Linked DNA regions of Homo sapiens: region 1 is linked to region 2. The links come from fine-mapping of genetic effects on gene expression. A gene starts in region 2. The other region holds a variant in brackets. All regions are shown on one strand. Distances are between the middles of the regions. Region 1 overlaps MANBAL (mannosidase beta like). Region 2 holds the start of MANBAL (mannosidase beta like).

Region 1 (4,386 bases), 21 kb before region 2:
TACCTCCAAGTCATTTATGAGTTCTCAGCATCCAACCTGTCCCCAAGGTCTGTCCATTCCGCTTTCCAACGGGCTCTAGACCCAGCCAGTCCCCTCTGGACACACTCCACTGCCCAGATCAGACCCAGGTCCCCTGCCGGCCCCACTGGTTGCATCTGCCTCCCACAGACTCTCCTGCCCGTGCCTCTACCTCCCCATGCTCGTCAGAGTTTACTTTACGTTCCTTTCAGAGTCGATTTTCCTAAAACAATGACAACAGGCCGGGCGCGGTGGCTCACGCCCGTAATCCCAGCACTTTGGGAAGCCAAGGCAGGTGGATCACCTGAGGTCGGGAGTTCAAGACCAGCCTGACCAACATGGAGAAATGCCATCTCTATTAAAAATACAAAATTAGCCAGGCGTGGTGGTGCATGCCTGTAATCCCAGCTACTCAGGAGGCTGAGGCAGGAGAATCACTTGAACCCAGGAGGTGGGGGCTGCCGTGAGCCGAGATCATGCCATTGCACTCCAGCCTGGGCAACAAGAGCAAAACTCAAAAAAAGTTTCGCTCAAAACAAAAACAAACAAACAAATAAAAAAAACAATGACAACAACAATCCCAATCGTGTCTGTTTCCTCCTTCAAAAACTTTGCTGGTTCCCCTTTGTGTGAGATAAATTCCAAGACACCCAGCAGGGGCTCCAGGCCTCTTGCTCGGTCTTGGCCCCTGTCTCCAGGCAGGCCCCGTCGTGCAGCCTACTCTTGTCACCCTGAGATACTGGCCAGCCAGTGTCTCCCAGTACTCTGCTCCCTTTCCTCCTCTGTATCTCTACCTGCACCCAGTACATGTGGGCACTGTGCCACGGGGAATGAAGATGAGAACGCACACTTAGTGGCTGTGTGCCATGTGGATGCTCACCGAGCCTCTCCATCGCCCTGGTGAGCCAGCCACCACGAGCCACACTCCACTGGCAAGGCCACTCAGGCTCCCTGAGGCCAGGTGACGGCCCCATGCAAGCTGCAGGGAAGCAAAGGCGGCCGTGACCCACATGACCTGGGCCCTGGGGTCCCAGCCACACAGGGCCTGTAGCTCCAAGTTCTTCACTGACAAGAATGACTCTCAATTAAGGGCTGCCTTTTCATTTCTCCTCAAATGTACGCTGCCCGTACCAGCCACACAGACGGCAGACTACAAAGCCGACAGCCCTGCCTTTAAATCTGGGAGCACTGCGCCTCCTCTCAAGCGAGCCTCAAGTTTCCTCAGCAATCACACTGTCACATATAAAAGAAAACTCCCGAGGCCAGGTGGCTCCTGGGTTCACAGTGGCGTCCTCTGTGGACACAGGCCCCATCAATAATGAAGCAGCTCTGCAGCGCTTACCAGGCCAGAAAATTGCTGCTATTCATCAGATCCAAATAATCAAATGTGTGCCACAATACATCATATCCCTTCCAGCATGAAAAGTGCATTGAATTTTATGATTTCCACTCTACAGTTCAATGTGGATTTAGTCCTGTAAATCAGGACAAAATGTCATTCTACGCAGGCCACTCTTTCCTTGAAAATGGCCCAGGTGCTATACTCAGGCATCTTCGTGCACCTTATCTTGCATGACCCTCTAAGAACAATGGAGTTAGGCAGGAATATCCTCTTCTGATGACGGAGGCAGACTAAAAGCAGGTCAGCACTCAGACCAGTCTGC[T/C]TAACGCTGAAGGTGCTGCCCATCCCAGCGGGCCATGAGGGCCTGAGACAGGGTGGGAGCTGAGAAGGCCTCGCAGAGATGAAACTAGCAGTGGCCTTGAGGAAAGATAGGACTGGCTGAAACAGAGAGCAAGGAAGGCCATCCATGTGGACTCAACAAGGCAAACGGAGACACGGAGTCCAGGATGCGCTTGGCAGGCGGGGAGAACTGTGATTAGAAAGAACAGCCTTGGGAGCTCATTCCAGACACAATTCAGCACGACTATGCTGGCCCTCCCCACTGGCTGCTCTGTGGCTCCTTGTGTGTCCAGCCGTCTCTCCCAAGAACCGGTCGGTACACATCTCCAGACCACAGGCTGGTGGAAGCATGTTTATACCCTCATCACACGGCAATCTCTCCAGAACGGGTCATTAAGTAAAAAACAGCCTGCCTCTCAATTCAACTGCAACCTCCTCCCAAGCTTTAAAACCACACAGAGCAGAAATGCACAGTTGCTTCTGTGAGTCTGTGTCCTGAGGTGTTGAGAATGGGTGGATGCTTGCCTGGGGCTCATTATTTATTTACGGCAGGCCTCACTGGCAACTAGCGGCCTCGTTTAAAATCAAGACCCTTGTGCAAAATTTTCCAGAAGAGTCCTGACCTTCTAGGCCACTGTCCTACTGCACCACAGGAATGAGCCACCTGTGGTGCAGTAGGTGCAGGTGGCTCACCATACTGATGAGCCAAAACATCATCAGGGGTCTAAACACTGCAGGGCTTTCTGGTTGGTTGTGAAGTCTCCACGGGCATCATATTGAAAGCCACCACTCTCACCATCGCCCGTGGCGAGTCCTCCACTAGATCGCAATGCTGGCCACCGGCTGTCTGTCTTCCCAGCACCTCTTTTCCATGGGGACCCTGCCCTTTCCCTATCCCATGGGGGTCTGGGGGACTCTCAGTCACTGGGGTCACAAGAGTAGGCAGCTAAATGTGGCCTGGCCAGAGACAGCACTCATTCCTGCTTCCCACCTGTGAGACAAGGTGTATGTGGCCAAGGAGAGGCCTTCCATGAGACTCAGAAGGTGAGGAGAGGCAGAGAAATGGCTTCTCTCACCTGTCAATCCCGACTGATAAGGGCACTGACTGTGGCTGCTGCAGCCATCTTTCCCAACACAGAACAAGGGCCTAGGAAGGAAGCCAGCACTCCCAGGAAAGCCAGGAGAGAGAGAGACACATGAAGCCCTGGAGACCCCTTGAACCCCTAAATCCAGCTGTCCTTTGAAATTCCCAGTTCCAAGAGCCAATACTGTTTCCATTCGGGGAAGCTGCTGGAGCTGTTTCTGAACTTGCAACAGGAAGAGTCCCCACTAATATGAGACGGTGGCAATCAACAAACATGGCAGAGTAGAAGTGAAAGGACCTGCCTTCTAGAAGCAGGCAGCTGGCTGTGAGCTGACGAGATGCACTATAAGCATATGAACAGATGAGAATAGTCAACACTGAAACTAGGAGAGTTTCTGATTCACTACCGTGTATGACTGACTATCTGCCACACAAGTTGCTGAACTCAAAGTCTACACCCACTTGCTTAGTTACCTTCGTGCACCTTATCTGGCTGAATCAACACTCTGTGTAGAAATCGATCCGGAAGAGGCTTGGAGGAGGGTTATGGGGAGGAGGAAGACAGGCTCCCCACCTTGAGAAGAAACCTGTCCCCCACTTCCCACTGCACTCCATGTAGAGAGGCTATGGACCATCTCCCCCAGAAAATGTGCCTAGGCATATAAAACCTCACATTCTTGTACACAATTTGAGGGGGATCACAGACCCCTCAAACCTATCCCAGGACTTCCCTAGAAAGCCAGGAACTCCCTATTGAGAACTTTCTTCTACTGAAACCCAACTCTGAAGGACGGCAGCTGGAACACAGTGGTGGTGTCAGACTAGGCTGGCTTTCCCCAATCCTCTCCAGGGAACTGGTGTCACATGTGCTCTCCATGAACCACTCGGTGGACTTCAGGGAGGCCACACTCTCCTGGTCTCCTGCCCACTGCTCTGCCTGTCACTTGAGAGAGGGAGAGAAAGGGAGACCCCAGCTTTGTCTGCCTAGCAGTCCCCCTGTGGGAATGGACCTTCCCATCCTCACTCAGAGGTCACTCCACAGAACCCTCCCCTCCCCTCCACTGGCCACAGCTGTCCCAAGCTGGGTCAGCCACAGTTCCTTCCCTGGGGATGCTGGAACTGAGACCAGCAGGAAGGCATGGTTGTGTTTAGTGGCTGTGCTGCATCTCACCACAGGGCCAGCAAGCAGAGAAGCAGGGTCCTAGTTAGAAAAGCAAAAGACAGGAGGGAGACAGGAAGGGAGGCAGAGGGCATGCCAGTGAGGAGCAGTAAGTCCCAGTTCCCACCACTTCCGGAGGCCCTGCGGCGCTCCTGCTCTTGGGTTCTAGGACAGCACCCGCACCTTCTCAGTCTATCTACATTGCACGGAAACTACTTCAACAGGTTGGGTATGCTCCAAGTTCACGTCTTTCCTGGATCTTCATTTCCCTTGCAAAACTCAGCAACTCATTCTTGGGTTTCAAGTAATAATGCTGTATTTGTTTGGTTTCCTTTTTTTTTTTTTTGAGATGGAGTCTCGCTCTGTCGCCCAGGCTGGAGTGCAGTGGCACAATCTCAGCTCACTGCAACCTCCATCTCCCGGGTTCAAGGGATTCTCCTGCCT
Region 2 (4,386 bases):
AGAAACGATCACAGAGATGATGAGCCTAAAGAGATATGATGACTAAATGTAATAGGGTGCCCTGGATAATACCAGGACAGAAAAAGGACATTAGGGAAAAACTAAGGAAATGTGAATAAAGTACAGATTAGAGTTAATAATAATGTATCAATATTGGTTCAGTAATTGTGACATTTCAGATATTAGTAATAGGGGAAACGTGGGCTATATGGGCACTCACTGAAGTATCTTTGCGATAACTTTGTAAATCTAAAATTATTCTAAAACAAAAAGGTTATTGGGGAAAAAAAGAATGGGTCAACATTTCAAAACAAATAAATAAAAAACCACTGAGACAAGTATAGCTCTCAAGACTTAGCAAATACTAAATCTTCTCTTAAGACTGAAAAACTCAGATTTCACGACTGCCACAGGCCTTCATCTCCCAATGTTGTGTACTGTGCTGGTAGGCCATTCTTGGCTTCTAATGAAGTAACTTTAAATTCTATTGTGAAAATTCAGCTGAAAACAGACTGGGGAATAGAAACCAGTGTCAGAAGTTACTGTTTTAGGCCAGGCACAGTGGCTCTTGCCAGTAATCCCAAACACTTTGGGAGGTCCAGGAGGAAGGATATCTTGCCTCCAGGAGTTCAAGACCAGGCAGGAAAACATAGTGAGACTCCATCTCTATTTCAACTTTTTTTTAATTAAAAAGAAAAAAAAGCCGGGTGTGGTGGCTCCCGCCTATAATCCCAACACTCTGGGAGGCCGAGGCGGGTGGATCACCTGAGGTCGGGAGTTTGAGACCAGCCTGGCCAACATGGTGAAACCCTGTCTTTACTAAAGATACAAAAATTAGCCGGGCGTGGTGGCACACGTCTGTAATCCCAGCTATTCGGAAAGCTGAGGCAGGAGAATCGCTTGAACCCAAGAAGCGGAGGTTGCAGTGAGCCAAGATCCCGCCACTGCCCTTCAGCGTGGACGAGAGAGAGACTCCGTCTCTAAATAAATAAATAGAATGGCTTTAAAAAAAAAAAAAGGAAAGAAAAAGAAGTTACCGCTTTATGGCAATGGGTTGTACAGCCTGGCCCGTCCCATTAAAACAAATTCCTAAGAACCACGCAAAACTAGATTAGAATGCAAAGCTAAGCCACCTCTCTGGGCAAAGTCACACTGGTAGCCGGTGGGCTGAAACTGGTGTGCAGATGCCCTGCAAAATATAATTATTAATCTAAATGTGTTGTCACCATTTTAAAAATGTTTCTCATATTCATTTCTCGCTTCTCTTAGAATTCGTACAACAAACATGGACTGTGCACCTACTAAGGGCTTTACATTCACCACCTCGGTTTACCCCGCAGTACAAGCGTGTATGTCCATTTTAGAAGACGAAACTGAGGGCCAGAGAGGAACCGTGACTTGCCCACGGTAAGAGAGCCATACGGATTCGAACCCTGGCCAGATTCACTCTGGAGCTCAGGGTTCTCCTACTGCTCCACCCGTGGGAGGAAAGGCCCGGACCAGGCCATGAGGAGCCCTGGGTTCTGGCCCAGCCTCCGCACGAAAGCGCAGGGCTGCCCCAGGCGAGGCCCTCCGCCTCCCGGGGGGCTCAAATTCCCCTCCGGAAGTAACTTTCGAACAACCGCCGAGGGAACGTATTCAGGCCCTGAGCGGAGCGACAGCCGGGCCCACCAAGCGGCGCCGCTGGAGACAGGCCGGCCGGGAAAGCCAGGCCACCGCACCGAGGACGGCTCTCTCTCGGTTCCCACCCCACCGCAAAGCTGCGGCACTCACCTCCCGCGCCGCCGCGCCGCTCCCCCGGAAGTAGTTCCCTGCGACCCTGAGTCCCGGAAGTGACGCGCACTGAGCAACCAACCGGCTCTGTTCCGCCCGCGTTGCCAGGTTTCTGGGTGAGGCACCGCTGGGTTTTGTCGACTTTTGTCCCTGTTCTGTGGGTTCGAGCTGGACAAAGAGGTTTGGGGAAATGAAATCTAGAGCTTGTCAATTCTTTAAGCTCCTATATCACTCAGCTCGTTTCAGCAACATTTTTGTTTAATTAAAAAGAAAACAAAAGAAATTACTTCTCGGGGCTGGGCACGGTGGCTCACGCCTGTAATCCCAGCACTTTGGGAGGCCGAGGCGGACGGATCACTTGAGGTCAGGAGTTCGAGACCAGCCTGGTCAACATGGTGAAACCCCGTCTCTACCAAAAATACAAAAATTAGCCGGGCGTGGTGGCGGGCGCCTGTAATCCCAGCTGCTTGGGAGGCTGAGGCAAGAGAATCTCTTGAATCCCGGGAGGCAGAAGTTGCAGTGAGCCGAGATCGCGCCACTGCACTCCAGCCTGGGCGACAGAATGAGACTCTTCCTCAAAAAAAAAAAAAAAAAAAAAAAAAAGTTACTTATTCATCGCAATGGGCTGTATAGCTTGGCCCGTCTCATTGTAACAAATTCGTAAGAACTGCGCGAAACTAGATTAGAATTTTGTCCTATGCAAAGCTAAGCCATCTCCCAGAGCAGAGCACAGTCACAACTGGTAGCTGGTGAGCTAAAACGGGTGTGTAGCTGTCCTGCAAAATGTTCATCTGGATGTGTTGTCACTATTTCAAAAGTGTTTCTCACGTTCATTTCCTTAATTTTATGCCAGGTCCTGAGCTAGGAGCCTACAATGCAGAGAGGAGACAAACAGAAACACCTCTTGTAATTCAGACAGAAGCAAATCATTATAATTCATTCAAAAAGCATTCACTGAGCGCGTACTCTATGCTTTGTCCTTGTAACTGAGGACACAGTGCTAAAGCAGACACATACAGTCTCTGCCCTTGTGGTGCTTACAGTCCGTTGGAGGGAGACAGACTAATTAAATGAATGTGTAATCATATAACAGGATAAGTTTTTTGAAGGCAAAGAACAGTGTTCCATGATTAAGAAGGGGTGGGGGGCAAGTAGTAGGAGAAAAAGAAACCTAGATGAGAGTGTGATAACCAGCCTCCACCATAAACCCTGACGATTCTTGGCTCCTGATATCCATACCCCTCTGTAGTCACCTCCCACCAAGAATAAGACTGACCTGTATAACCCATAGGATATTGCGGAAATCTTGGAGCACGAGTTCCAAGATAAAGTCATAAAAGACATTGCAACTTCCTCTTTCCTCTGTCTTGATTGCTCATGGGGAATCCATGTTGTGAAGACACTCAAGCAGTCCTATGGAGAGGCTCGCATGGGGAGTAACTGAGCTGCCTGCCAACAACCAGCTCCAACTTGCCAGCCATGTGTATGAGCCAAGTGGCTCCAGCAGTCCTAGTCAAGCTTTCAAATGACTGTGGCCTGGCCAAAATCTTCAGTGTAAACTCAAGAGCAACCTTGAGCCAGAAATACCTTGCAATGCCACTTGAATGCCTGCCTCACAGAAATTGTGAAATACTAAATGTTATTGTTTTAAGCTCCTAAGTTTTAGGATAATTGGTTATGCAGCCTAGATAACATACATAGAGGATCAAGGAACAGAGGTTAGATACCAGAGACTCCAAAAAAAAAAAAGAGAGAGAGAGAGACCTATCTTGCCCTAAAGGAATTCAGTCTCTTAGAAGACAAATAATACACTCAACATTCACTAATCCCATACTATGTGAGGTGGCATGGGGGACCCAAAATGCATAATTTATTCATTTAAAAAATATTTATGGAGTTTCTACTCTGGATCATGCACTATGAAACTGGGAAGACAATGGTGAGTAGGTGGGATCCTACCCTGACTGTGCTTATAGACTAGGGGTCAATGTCTGTCACCCCCACTAATCAATCACACAGATAAATGTACACTTAAAAACCATGAGATGTGTTGGGAAGGAAGAAGGGGGAGCCATGAGAGAAGCAATAACATGGGAGATACAATCAAAAGAGAGGTGATGAGGGAAGACGTCCATGAGATCACATTTCTGGTAAGAAATGAAGAGTGGTGGCTCACGTCTATAATCCCAGCACTTTGGGAAGCTAAGGTGGACAGATTGCTTGAGCCCAGGAGTTTGAGATCAGCCTGGGCAACATGGCGAAACCCCGTCTCTACAAAAAATACCCAAAAAATTAGCCAGGCATGGTGGTGTGCACCTGTAGTCTCAGCTACTTGAGAGGCTGAGGCAGGACAATTGCTTGAACCTAGGAGGCAGAGGTTGCAGTGAGCCGAGGTCGCACCACTGCATTCCAGCCTGGGCAACAAAGCAATACTCCATCTCAAAAAAAGAAATGAAGAATGAGGAGGACTTTGCCAGGCAAAGAGAAGGAGGAAAAAGCACGATGGGTGGTGGAAAGGCTGGGTAGTGAGAAACGGCTTGGAGCCTAAGAATAGCTGAGGGGGTGACACTGAGGCCTGCAGGGTGCAGATGTTTAGGACAGGACTTACTACTT

Evidence for each region. PIP is the estimated chance that this variant, and not a neighbour inherited with it, causes the effect. A credible set is the group of variants that fine-mapping cannot tell apart.
Region 1: its variant is the best candidate, but not a certain one, in a credible set for the expression of MANBAL in whole blood (TOPMed, PIP 0.60).

What each region holds. Positions count from the first base shown.
Region 1 is chr20:37,307,659-37,312,044 of GRCh38, reverse strand. All of the region lies in intron 2 of MANBAL (mannosidase beta like), which reads right to left. Among named protein-coding and RNA genes, the nearest start is that of MANBAL, 20 kb to the right of the region's middle. The variant T/C (reference allele first, on the strand shown) is at 1,683.
Region 2 is chr20:37,287,074-37,291,459 of GRCh38, reverse strand. MANBAL (mannosidase beta like) reads right to left here and starts at 1,805. Exons shown (of 3, transcript NM_001003897.2): 1 at 1,774-1,805. RefSeq lists enhancers at 931-1,835, 1,908-2,017.